Homo sapiens: one gene and its partner. The protein of the gene in region 2 interacts with the protein of the main gene of each other region in a pairwise test. Each region holds a gene or a part of one and is shown on either strand. Other genes may lie near its edges.

The links. Proteins that work in one complex are often made in the same cells at the same time.
Region 1: the proteins of SPICE1 (region 2) and CEP135 interact in binary tests that used the Homo sapiens proteins (3 or more experiments, as listed by UniProt).

Annotation. Positions count from the first base shown.
Region 1 is NC_000004.12:56,014,923-56,021,947, reverse strand, and holds part of CEP135 (centrosomal protein of 135 kDa), read right to left. Parts: intron 4,301-7,025; coding exon 4,091-4,300; intron 2,596-4,090; coding exon 2,393-2,595; intron 1,273-2,392; coding exon 1,168-1,272; intron 1-1,167. UniProt on the Homo sapiens protein: Centrosomal microtubule-binding protein involved in centriole biogenesis. Acts as a scaffolding protein during early centriole biogenesis.
Region 2 is NC_000003.12:113,512,157-113,519,280, forward strand, and holds the start of SPICE1 (spindle and centriole-associated protein 1), read right to left. Parts: upstream 3,001-7,124; 5' UTR 2,741-3,000; exon of another isoform or gene 2,502-2,740; intron 1-2,501.

The DNA of each region.
Region 1 (7,025 bases), on a different chromosome or scaffold from region 2:
ATCAATCCTCCCACTTCGGCTTCCTGAGTAGCTGGGACTACAGGCACCCATCACCATGCCCCAGCTAATTTTCAAAAATTTTTTTGTAGAGATGGTGTTTTGCCATGTTGCTCACGCTGATTTCAAACTCGTGGGCTCAAGTAAATCCACCTGCCTTGGCCTCCCAAAGTGCTGGGATTGCAGGCATGAGCCACCAAGCCAGGCCTTTATGAAATCGTAAATATTGATTTCATAGCAAATTGTCACTATACTTCAAATAGCACATCACTACAAAGTTTTGACGTAAATAGGTAAGAATAACTCAAAAACTGATCTAACAAGCAATTTGGCCACTAATTGAGAATGAAATCTCAGGAATGCAGATGTCTATGGTATTAATATAGTAGGAAAGAGTAATGGAAGACAAGTAACTTGGCAACTGATTTTCAAGTTAGACTTCGATTTAAAGCAGGTCTCAATCCGGGTTAGTAACACCTGGGGATTAAATTTTTCAACGTAAAGCAAATGAACCAAAATATGAGTGAATATGAAAATTACCAAGCTGTAGGGAATACATTGAAGAGGTTAAGGGTACAGGTTTTAGAATTAAAATCTGTTTGGTTTCCTACCACTTACTATTTATGTGATCTCAGTTTCCTATAAGGTAGGCATAATAATAGATTGTTGGTGGGATTCATCAGACACTTATATAGTGTCTGGTCCACATTTGTTAACTGCTGTTACTATCTTCAAATCATTACCTTTATTATGATTTGTATGTGGAACATCCTACTTGAACCATACATTTTGGAGCTCTTATAGGGATTGTTGTTGCTTCTCTATACTCTTTGAAATACTTTTGGATTCTAATTTTGTCCTGCGGAATGCTATAGGAAATATTTATCCAATACTTCCTATTTTACCTTATTTTTCAGATTATTAAACAATTTTATTCAATAAATATTTATATAGCATCCGCTATGTAATACTTGCTATTTTAGTTACTGTAGAGCTATTATCTTCCCCAACACTTGTTGCCTTTTTTAAAAGGAAGAATTACCAAAGAAATGTACTTTATGTATTAGCTTTTTAAAAAGTTTGTTATTTGTAAAGCCATATTAAATACTTTCTGAAGTACAATAGAGAACACATAAAAACATTGTCAAATGTAAAAAAAATTTGTCTTACCGTTCGTATCTTTCAGTTGAGATCTGCCTTTTCAGAGCATCATAATCTGTTTGTAACTGTGCCACTTTAGCTCGAAGCATGGTGTTTTCCCGGCTTTGACTAGTTCTTAAAAACAAATTAAAAAATCAAGAAATAAACGTTCCGTTTTGTAGAGTCAGGTGCTGTGGGTTTTTTAAATTAATAAAGAGAAGATCAAGACCTTTCAACAAGAATTCTCTAAACTTCTAGAGCTTTTATCACATTTTCTTTTTCATTCATTTAGTTTATTTATGAAACATGTACTGAACATCTATTATGTGCTAAGCACTAAAGCAATGCTAGGGATACAAATTTGAACGAGACATAAATGGTAACACCAAGATGTAAAGTGTCTTCATTGGCTCTTTCTTGACTCTTGCCTTGGAAAGAGAAATATTAATATTTTTAATACCTTTCAAAAGCTCATTCTTCCATGTGTACTCTACTCTGGGTTTCTTTCCCTCTTCCTACAAATATGTCTAAATCCTTCTATTCTAAAAATATGACATAATCAGTCTCTCCCAAAGTAATCAATACATGTATGTGGGTCAAATCTCATAGCCTTTTTAGAGTCCTTTTTCCTAATCTACAGCATAAGACACAGCCACCTCTTCTTCTCCCGAGAACACTTTCTCCTTCACTGACTCCTCTGTCCATTCCTCAACTGTAGGCGCTTTCCTAACGTTTTCTCTTCTCATTACTCCCACGGTACAACCTCTGTAGTGAAGATATACAGGTCTGCACCTCCCAACACGATGTTTCTCCCGAGTCAGTCTCCTAAATTTCCAAAAGCAGCAGATGTATAAGCCAAATATTTTGGTTTTGGGACAGCGTCTCGCTCTGTCGCCCAGGATGGAGTGCAGTGGTGCAATCTCGGCTCACTGCAACCTCCACCTCCTGGGTTCAAGTGATTCTCACGCTTCAGCCTCCTGAGTAGCTGGGACTATAGGTGTGTGCCACCACGCCTGGCTTTTTTTTTTTGTATTTTTAGTATAGACGGGGTTTCGCCATCTTGCCCAGGCTAGTCTCAAACTCCTGAGCTCAGGCAATCTACCCGCCTTGGCCTCCCAAAGTGCTGGGATTACAGGTGTGAGCCACTGCACCTGGCCTATCTTTCATACTCTTAACCTTTCCTCCACTTCAAAAAAATTAAAAAACTATCCTTCACAAGCAATTGTCTTTGCATAAGTTGACTTAAGACACTTACAATTTGCTTTCAGAAAGGGTTAACTTCTCCTTAAGTAGCTGGATTTCTGTATCCTTCTCGTGGGAGGTTAAGTGAGAATGAAATTCTTTATCTCTGTTTGTAGCCAACAATGATTCGAGGTTTTTAACTGTATGTCTCTCATTTGAAAGTTGTTTTTTCAGTAGGTCTGACTCTGACTTTACATTTTCTAATTCCACCACAACCTACGTGAAAAACAAAGTAAGATTACTTCAGTACAATTTTAAACTTACTCTGAAAAAATTATTTATCTGACAATATAGCTCTGTGGAACTATTCACCTATCACTTGTTTCATTTTGGGTATGGGTTAAAGATTATGAACTGTTTCTTTAAGTATAAGAAAGACACTTTATTTTCAAAATAATCTTTGCTATTTTTACTATGGGCTTATTTGGCTATAGGATCTACTCAAATCCTCAAATAATTTTTAGTCATGGTACCTTATCAAGAGACGGTCATTAAGATAAAACCACAAGGGCAATGAGACCCTTCTGGTTGAATATGCTTACTCTGACTACATAATCAAGCCAGTATTATAGTTTCTCAGTACCTGAAAATAAAGATACTACTAGATGAGTGAAAATTGAAAACATCCATGTTTGAAAACAAACACTAGGTTATTTAAAGTAATGCCTCCATCTGGGAAAGGTAAATTCTAGCTAAATAGACTTGTTTAATTAAGATTTAAACACCTTGAGATTTTTATCGGGAAAAATATTCTACTTCGGAAGCACTGAACTGTTCAATCCTTCATTCAAGTCTTACTTTTTTTTTTTGAGACAAGGTCTCACTCTGTTGCCCAAGCTGGAGTGCAGTGGCACAATCTCTGCTTACTGCGGCCTCGACATCCTGGGCTCAAGTGAACCTTCCCTGCCTCAGCCTCCCGAGTAGCTGGGACTATAGGCACATGCCACATGCCTGACTAATTCTTTGTATTTTTTGTAGAGACGGGGTTTTGCCATGCTATCCAGGCTGGTTTCAAACTCCTGAGCTCAAGCAATCTGCCTGACTCGACTTCCCAAAGTGTTGGGATTACGGGTGTAAGCTATCGTACCTGGCCTCAAGTCTTACTTTTAAACAGAGAAAGAATGTATTAGGATATGCTGATTTATAATCAGAAAATTCATAATCTCCTAGATAGCCATCTATTCCAAAACATTACCCACTTTCATCACTACGTTTGCCTGAGAAATCTTGCAAAGAATCAAGCAGTCAAATCTGGTTGTCAAAATCCTGTAGTCAAAAGTAACTATTGTAGGCTGGGTGCAGTAGCTCATGCCTGTATCCCAGAACTTTGGGAGGCCAAGGCAGGCAGATCACGTGAGGTTGGGAGTTTGAGACCAGCCCGGCCAACATGGTGAAACCCCATCTCTACTAAAAATACAAAAATTAGCCAGGTGTGTTAGCAGATGCCTGCAATCCCAGTTACTCAGGATGCTGAGGCATCCTGAGATGCCTGAGGGAGAATTGGTTGAACCCAGGAGGCGGAAGTTGTGGTGAGTTGAGATCGCACCACTGAACTCCACCAGCCTAAGCGACAGAGCAAAACTCCATCACAAAAAAAAAAGTAACTACTCTAAAAGGAAACAAGTATATGCATGGTGTGGTGAATACTAAAGTAAAATAATTAGAGTAGGGCTCAATAAAACAATGTGCCAAGACAATTTATCTTTCTTACCCTCTCAAACTCAAGGTTTTTCGAATTCAATTGCTGGGTCATAATATCTTTGCCTGAATCAAGTTTAATGCAAAGTTCTCTAAGAGATGACAAGTCATTTAATACTGTTGCTTTCTCATCTTCTTGATGTCTCAGCTCTTCTTCTAATCGAGACATGGCTTTTGCCATTGATGAGATCTGAGATTCATAAGCATGATGGGCATTTATGTGCTGAAAAAAGAAAAAGAAACAAGTAAAAAGTTAAAATAACCCAATAATTTTAAGAACTTGAATTTGTACAGCCAACAATCTCACTTTAGAAAAATATGACAGCCAATTTTTGCTTATTTTAAAATACTCTCAGGAAGCTGCCTACTATTTAAAGATGACCTATTTAATGCTTAACAAAATGAATTGTGTATAATTATTAATCATGGTAACTGAGTATCTCATGTATATATTTATATATTTGGAAATGTAAAAAAGAAAGTTATTGTATCAGGGTGTTGTGAATATGAGGGATTTTTGAGGTTGCATTAAATTTTTCCTTTAAAAATTATCTTTGTTATAATAATGTCATTTCAAGAAAAAGTAATATATATACATATCACTCCTCAACTGTCTTCAGTTAAATTCTAAATTCCAAAAATGGGGTTTACTTCAAAACTATATACCTGGATAATTTAAATTTAACTTAAATAAATAGTAAACAACTTTAATATTTTAATAACTGAAATAATGAAAAAAATTTCAAATAATGATAAATTTTTTTTTCTAGAAGAATCCACAGTTGAAATTTCTCACAATTTGAATTATGAGTAATAAATACAAACTGATATAAACTCTACTTCTAGGTTTTGGGGAGAATTCTGCATTGAAAAATAAAATTATTGCAAGAGGCTATTAAAACGGCTGGGTGGCTCACGTCTGCAACCCCAACACTCTGGGAGGCTGAGGTGGGAGGATCACTTGAGCCCAGGAGTCTGAGACCAGTCCGGGAAACATAGTGAGAACCTGTCTCTACCAAAAAATACAAAAATTAGCTGTGTGGTGGCACATGCCTATAGTCCTTGCTACTTGGGAGGCTGAGGCGGGAGATCACCTGAGCCCACGAGTTCAAGGCTGCAGTGAACTGTGGTTAAGCCATTCCACTCCAGCCTGGCCGATGGTGCAAGACCCTGACTCTTAAAAAAAAAACTCCACAAATCCACATTGAAAATCTAATATTGTGCTGTGAAGATTTAATCAATTTCAAAAATTGCAGAAAAGTATTTAGATTTTTTAGTGCATTAATAAAAGCTCCCCTAAACAAATATAATACTTTAGTATTGTATTGTGAAATTGGCTTATACTTTAGTAACAGCCAATTTCATATACCACATACGAACATGAACAATAATAAAGAACAAAATAATTGAAGATTAGTTGAGAACAGTTGCTGAAAAACTCTTTTGAAGGTTGAAAGGCACTCCTTTAATTAGTTATTATACCCTTCTTAACAGAAAAACTTTTAGAGATAGTGTATTAGTTCCCTAGGGCTGCCATAACCAACTACCACAAATTAGGTGTTTTAAAAAAACAAAAATTCATCCTTTCACAGTTCTGGAGGCTGGAAGTCCAAAATGTGGGTGTTAGCAGGGCTGGTTCTTCCAGAGCTTCTATGGGAGAATCTGTCCCATGCCTCTCTCCTAGCTTCTGGTGGATGCTGCCAGTGCTTGGTGTTCACTCACTTGCAGACATATCACTCCAATCTCTGCCTCCATCTTCACACAGCCTTCTCTGTACGTACTGTATCTAAATTTCCCTCATCTTTGAAGGACACCCATCATTCACTAGGTTAGGGCCTGCCTTAATCCAGCACAACCTCATCTTAACTTGTTCACATTTGCAAAAACCCTGTTTCCAAATAAGGTCATGTTGACAGATACTGGGGATTAGGATTTCAACGTATCTTTCTGGTGGACACAATTCTCCTACCCTCTGATCCCCCAAAATTCATGTCCTTCCCATATACAAAACACATTCACTCCATCCTAACATTCTAGCATCAACTCTAAACCCAAAATCTCATCTAAGCATCATCTGAATCACATATGGGTGAGACTCTGAATATGGACCACACTGGGACAAAATTCTCCTCCATCTACAGACCTATGACACTGGAAAACAAGTAAACTGCTTCCAAAATAAAATGGTGGGATAGGCATACCATAGAAGTCCCACTGTAAAAGGGAGAAAATAAAAGGAATAAAGGAGTTACTAGTCCAAAGTAAGTCTGCAACCAAGCAGGCTGAATCCATTAGATTTCAAAACCCAAAAATAATCATTTGTGCCTTCATTCTCTGGTGCTCTGTTCTCTGAGCCAGCCAGGGGGGCCCCACCCTGTGTCCCACAGGGGCAGTGGCCTTGCCCTCTGAAACCAAGCAGACAGACAGTAGCTCCATCATCTGGACCTGTGATGTCTGGGCTTGTGGTGGTAGCCACAGCCCCACCAGCCTCTGAGTTGCCCTTGGTGGCCTTGCTGGTCTCTGAGCTACCCTTAAGAGTCATTCTGTCCTTTTCTTGAAGGTGAACTTGCAGCCAACTAGCTCTGTTGGTCTGTCTTCTGCTAGTAGGATCCCAGAAGTCCAACAACCTTCCTTCTTTTCATCCCATTTCTGTTCCTTTCAGTCAAAGCTGGAAGTGATTCTGCTGAGATGATTGATTGGATTCATGAGTCACATATCTAATCTCTTCACCAAGAGGTTTTCTAGCCATACTCTGGAGCACACTATCTGGATAGGCTAAGAATTTTCCAAAATCATCAAGTCCTGGTTTATTTTTTTTTCCTTTTTTTTGAGACAAGGTCTTACTTTGTCACCCAGGCTGGAGTGCAGTGGCATGATCTCGGCTCACTGCAGCCTTGACCTCCTGGGCTCAGCCCCCCAAGTAGCTGGGACTACAGCCACGTGCCACC
Region 2 (7,124 bases):
CAACCCACAGAAATTGTGAAATGATAAATAGTAATTGTTTTAGGCCACTAAATCTGTGGTAATTTACTACCTGTGTACAGTAGGATAACACAGGTATAGTTAAGCTGCTATCCCATCTTTGCCCTTCTCTTGCCATCCAGCTTCATGAAAAGGTACACTTTAGCACCTGTATTTACTAATCCTTAGTTCTACCTCCAAGTTTTATTAATTACAAAAACTCTGACCCCACCTTTGCACTGAAAAGCTTTCTTTTTTTTTTTTTTTTTTTTTTGAGACGGAGTCTTGCTCTGTTACCAGGCTGGAGTGCAGTGGCACGACCTCAGCTCACTGCAACCTCCACCTCCCGGGTTCAAGCGATTCTCCTCCCTCAGCCTCCTGAATAGCTGGGATTACAGGCGCTTGCCACCATGCCCGGCTAACTTTTGTATTTTTAGTAGAAACGGGGTTTCACCATGTTGGTCAGGCTGGTCTCGAACTCCTGATCTCGTGATCTACCTGCCTTGGCCTCCCAAAGTGCTGGGATTACAGGCGTGAGCCACCACACCTGGCCTCTTCTATTCTTTTCTCCTTTTCTTCACAGGCTCTATTGTCCTCCTCCACACAAACAATTTAATCAAGGATTTCCACCCAGTTCTATCTCAGTTCTCATTCTTCTTGTCTTTCCATTAGATACCCTCTCCTTTCATTCAATAATTATTTGGGGGAGTGCAGCACACACCAGGCACTGGCTAGGCATTAGAGATACAAGTAAACAAGTAAACTAAGTAAACTAAATAAACTAAGATATTAGTAAACAAGTCTAATATGGTGCCAGCTCTCATGGAGCTGCTTTCTTGATCACAAAGGGGCAGTTCACATCCTCCCTCAGTGACCTCACCAACTCCCTTGAGCAAAGCTATGAATGTATGGACAAACAAACACACTGTGAAAATGAGTCCCAAATCAATGATTCACACCTTTCCTCAAAACTTCAAACACAGTGGCTCGCATCTGTAATCCCAGCAACTCGGGAGGCTGAGGCTGGAGGATCGCTTGAGGCAGGAAGCTCAAGACCAGCCTGTGCAACATAGCAAGACCCTGTCTCTAAAAAAAAAATTTTTTTTAATTAGCCAGGAGTGGCAGTGAGTGCCTATAGTTTCAGCTACTCAGGAGGCTGAGGTGGGAGGACTGCTTGAGCCCAGGAATTGGAGGCTGCAGTGAGCTACGATGGCGCCCCTGCACTCCAGCCTAGGTGACAAAGTGAGGCTCTGTCTCTTAAAATAAACAAACAAAAACAAAACAAAAACACCAAATGCTCATTTCTAACTACCTACTATATACATCTCCCAAATATCACAAATACAGTATATCAAAATACAGCTCATCATCATACCCCAAATCTCTACTTGCTGATATATAACTGGTTGACTCGATAAATATGTTCAATTAAGCTGAATTTACAGAATTACAATCCTAGTTGCTCCAATTTAAAACCTCAGCATCACCTCTGTTCCTTATCTCTTAGTGAATCAGATAACAGAATCTATTAACTTTTTCCCTAAAAATCTCTCTTGCCCGCTCTTCTCCATCTCTACTAAAAATATTTTTGTTCAGGCTCTCATTATTCTAATTAGTCTCCCTTTCACTCTTCACTCACTGACTTCATCATCCATCTATTAATGTAACTAATATTTTGAAGCACCATCTAAAAGCGAGGCACCAGATATAACAAGAAAGTAGAATAGTCTATGCCCTTGCAGAGTTAAGAGTTTCTAAGAGGACCGCAATTAAACAAGTATTTACAACAAAAGGGCAGCATGGGAAGTAAATTCTGTGTGCCATGAAAGTACCTAACTAACTCTATGCAGTAAGTAAAAGCTTCTCCTCTCTGTAATACCCCCAAAAATGTTTGCACTGAGAGCTAAAATACGAATAAAAGTTAGAAGCAGGGGAAAGAATATTCCAGGCAAGGGAAAATGCATTTACGAAGAGTTTGAGAAGTTCAGTTCAATTAACAAAGATCTGAGAGGGTGAGAGGTTAAAGGAAGAAAGGCAGACAGCAGATTGTAGTCTTGTGAGCCACAGCAATCTGAACACCTAAGACCATAGGAAACCACTGAAGAATTTTAAAAGGGATAGTTATGACTGGACTTAGTAAATCCACTCTGACTGGTGTGGAAAACTGATCAAAGAGAAACAAGAACTCTTTCCAAACACTGTTGAATCAATCCTACCTAAATACATGGATAGAGAATAGATCTGAACCCTTTACCTACTTCCTCTAGATTCGGATGGCTCCCCACTGTCAAAAGCAATCCAACTCAGCTTGGCATTCAGACCCTCTCCCCCATATGGCCCGGCTGACTTTTCTTTCCAGTGTTCTCTCACATCTCCCGCAAATCCTAAAACCAAGCTCTCGCCTCACACACAGTTGCAACCATTCTTTTCCCTCTGCTTGGAACACTCATTAGGCTCACTCTCTTCTCTACTGGGTTAACTTCCACGGACTCCTCAAAACTCACAGGAGGAGCCTTCTGAGAAGCCCCTCTGACATCCATCGATTTAAATGACGCTCCCGGTCCCAAAGCACCCTGGATAGTTTGCCTCTCTCCTGCTACACGGTGAACTCCCCCAACGCTACAATCGAGCACCCCCAATTACCAGCTCTGTGCAAAAGCTCCCGAAAGCGGTGCGCACGCGCATACTCGAGGTGCTCTGGCGCCACGCACAAACATACCCAGACACGCACCCTGACACGTACTTGCACTCTCAAAACACAGAGCCGCGGCTGCGCTTCCTGAAGTAAGGATTCCCCAACCGGGCGCCTGGATCCCAGGCAACAGACAGATGCCACCACCGTTCTCCCCACCCTTTTGGTAGCCCTGGTCCCTAAGGCTCGTTGGGACTGCGAGCTGCAAGCCTCAGATCCATCATCTCAACCTGCCTTGCAGTCGGTCCCGACTGCCGCCGCCACCGCAGCTAAAACTTCAGGCGCCGGAACCGCGGAGCGCGCCACAGGTTAACCCAGCCAGCGGCTTCCGGGCTGTTGCCTGGGTTACCAGAGCTCCGCCCCACGCCCTTGCGTATATCCGGCGAGCCCAGTGCGCAGGCGCCTCCCAAAGCCTATCTCGGGTCCTGAGTCTAAGGGAGAGAGGTTCCTCTGCAAGGTTCAGGGCAAATTATTAAAGAATAGGTATATAGCAGGCCGGGCGCGGTGGCTGACGCCTGTAATCCCAGCACTTTGGGAGGCCGAGGCAGGCGGATCACGAGGTCAGGAGATCGAGACCATCCTGGCTAACACGGTGAAACCCCGTCTCTACTAAAAATACAAAAAATTACCCGGGCCAGGTGGCGGGCGCCTGTAGTCCCAGCTACTCGGGAGGCTGAGGCAGGAGAATGGCGTGAACCTGGGAGGTGGAGGTTGCAGTGAGCCGACATGGCGCCACTGCAGTCCGGCCTGGGCGAAAGAGCGAGACTCCGTCTCAAAAAAAAAAAAAAAAAAAAAAGAATAGGCATATAGCATTAGCCGGTGCCTCGAGAATTCTCCAAAAGAAAGATGTTGCTCTCCTCACCAGACTTCACATATCACTTAATTTGCTTTCATCTCTATTCATTTGTTTACAAATCTTTAGTAGTGGAATCCCAGCACTTTTGGAGACAGAAGCAGAAGGATTGCTTAAGCTCAGGAGTTTGAGACAAGCATGGGCAAGATGGCGAAACCCCGTCTCTACGAAAAATTAAAAAATTAGCTGGGCGTGGGAACACGCCTGTAGTTCCAGCTACTCAGGAAGCTGAGGTGCGAGGATCGCTTGAGCCAAGGAGGGCAAAGCTGTAGTGAGCCACAGTCATACCACTTCACTCCAGCCTGGACGACAAAGCAAGACCTTGTCTCAAAAAAAAAAAAAAAAGTTGTTTATTACAACCTACAAATGTGCGGGAGAGCTAGGTTCTATGGGGCTAAAAACAGGCAAGGTGGGAAACTTACAGCATATTAACAGACAGTTATCAATGACAAAAACATTAAAATTATGACGAGTGCTAAGAAGGAAGCACTCTAACCAAATACTTAGCTTATTATTATAGTAATATTTGAATTACTCAGGAAAGCTCAGACATGAATAGGCCAGTGGGGAAGGGGAAAGCATTCCTGCAGAGGGAGCTGCATGTGCAAAGATGTGGAAAATGCAAGGGACAGGAAGAGGTCCAGTGTGTCTGAAGTTTAGAGAACAGTGGGAACTTGCTGTGAAGGGGAGGCGCCCTGATAGGCTGGATCCACGACAGTCAGAGCTGCGTGGACCACGTTAAGAACTTTACAAAGCACTTGATTCAAAAACAGAGTTTATTTGCTCTGGTAAGACAATTTCCTCTAGCCCCTTGCTTTCTGCTGTTACAATACACCCATGTGTGGTCTGCAAATACATGCCCAAAACCTTCTAGAGGAAAGGTACTGCCTTTAATAGTTTTCACTCTGATTGAGGAAGTTTGATGTAGATATATTTAATAATCAACAATCATCCACTTGCTTGCATCCTCAACTCCCTGCCCCTCTCTAAATTGCTGTAATCACTTGGCAAAATGACCATATTAGCCATCCCTACTTTACACTTACTAAGTGCTTGCACCCATGCAGCTGAATCTGAAAAAAAACACCCAATCATGCTGACTTTAAATTCATGATTACTGATGTTAAGTAGGACCTTAAAGATGCTTGAACATCTCATTACAGGTCCCTGTTCATTGATTTTCCTACATATTAGTTTTATACCTTCATTCATACCCAATGCCTTGTCTCCTATCCTCATTCTCACACAATGACCTTGCTTCCTACTGCATTGATTACACTGAATTATTCAAAAGAGAACTTCCCTAAGCTCCCATCATTATTTTAATCCTTCTGTCACTATCTTTACCCACAGACCTGCCTTCAGAAGCTCAGCATAAGAAATATGAAGAAAGCTAATCAAAATACTTCATAATCAAATTGCTCAGAACGAGTGATAAAAGAATCTTAAAAGCATCCAAGGAAAAAAATACATGTCGTATACAGCAGAACAAAACTAAGGATTACATCAGTTTCTCATTAGAATCAAAACAAGCAAGAAGACAGAATAACAGTTCAAACATATTCAAAGAAAAAAAGCTATCAACCTAGAATCCTTATACTATTCCTTTTTTTTTTTTTTTTAAGACAAAGTCTCACTCTGTCACCCAGGCTGGAGTGCAGTGGCACGATCTCGGCTCACTGCAACCTCCACCTCCCAGGTTCAAACAATTCTCCTGCCTTAGCCTCCGGAGTAACTGGGACTACAGGAACACACCACCATACTCAGCTAATTTTTGTATTTTTAATAGAGACGGGGTTTCTCCATGTTGGTCAGGCTAGTCTTGAATTCCTGACCTCAGGTGATCTGCCCGCCTTGGCCTCCCAAAGTGCTGGGATTACAGGTGTGAGTCACCGCGCCTGACCCTTATACTATTCCTGATACCACTTAAAGGTAGACTATGATAAAATAAAGATGTATACTATAAACCCTAAAGCCGCCACTAAATAATAAAAGTTATTGTTAAAAGCTTACAAAAGTCATGTAAAGGATAACGAAACAAATACTTGATTAATCTAAAAGTATAAAACAAGAAAAAACAAAGAAAAGAGAGAAGTAGGAAAGAAATTGCAAGATGATAGACTCATAAATCATATTAAATGTAAATTGTCTAAACACACTGAATAAAAGGCAGAGATTGTCAGATTGTCAGAGATTGTTTAAAATCTTGAATTTTTTAAATTGCTGCTTATAAGAAGGGAAACATTAAATATAAAGACACAAATAAGTTTAAAATACAAGGATGGAAAAAAGATATATCATGCTAACACTAGTGAAAATAAAGTGGAGTGACTTTATCAATTTTAAACAAAGTAGAGTTCAGAGCAGAGAATATAACCAGAGATAAAGAAGATCATTTAATAATAATAAAAGAACCATTTAATCAAAAGGTCATAACAATCCTAAACATTTTTGCATCTAATAACAGGACTTAAAAATATATGAAGCAGAAACTGATAGTACTGCAATGCGAAATTGAAAGATCCACAATAGTCAAATATTTCAATGCCCCTTTCTGAATAATTTATAATGCAAATAAGCAGAAAATCAACAAGGTTATAAGAGACTTGAGCAACACTATCAACCATCTTGACCTGATTGACATTTATTAAACACTCCAATAATTGGCAGAATACACATGGTTCTTAAGCATATACAGAAAGTTTAGAAGATGGACAATAATCTGGACCATAAACAAATGTTAACAAATTCAAAAGGATTGAAGTCATGCAAGATACATTCTCTGACCACAATGTAATTAAATTAGAAATCAATAACAGACTGATTCTTGGAAAATCCCTCAAAATTTGGGGAATAAAATACACTTCTAAACAAGCCATTGCTATGGTCTGAATGTGTCCCCACAAACTTTCTATGTGACAATTTGCCAATGTGATAGTATTAAAAGGTGGGGCTTTCAGGAAGGAGGTGATTAGATTATGAAGGCTCTGCTCATCATGAATGGGATTTGTGCCCTTAAAAAAGAGTCTTTTAGGAAGCCTGTTTGTCCCTTTTGCCCGTTTTGCCCTTCTGCTATGTGAAGACACAGGATTCACCTCTTCCACCATATGAGGACACAGAAACCAGACACTAAATTTGTTAGTGCCTTGATCTTGGATTCCCCAGGCTCCAGAACCATGAGAAACAAATTTCTGTTGTTTATAAGTTACCCATTTGAAGGTATTTCATTATGGTAACCCAAATGGACTAAAACAGAAGTTGGTACTGAGAAATGGGGTGCTGCTGTAACGATTACCTAAAAATGTGGAAACAGCTTTGGAACTGGATAATGGAGAAAGGCTGGACTATAAAGGGATGCGATAGTGTGGGCTCAGAAGGAGAGAAGAGCTGTAAAAAAAAAAAAAGCCTCTGTCTTAAGTGGTCATGATCAAAGTGTTGGCAGTGAACGAAATTCTGATGAGGTCTCAGGTGGAAATAAGGAATAAAATATTGGAAACTGGACAATACGCAAACCTGGTTTTTAAGTGGTAAGAACTTGGTTAAATTGTGTTTGTGTCCTAATGTTTTGTGAAAGAAGGAGTC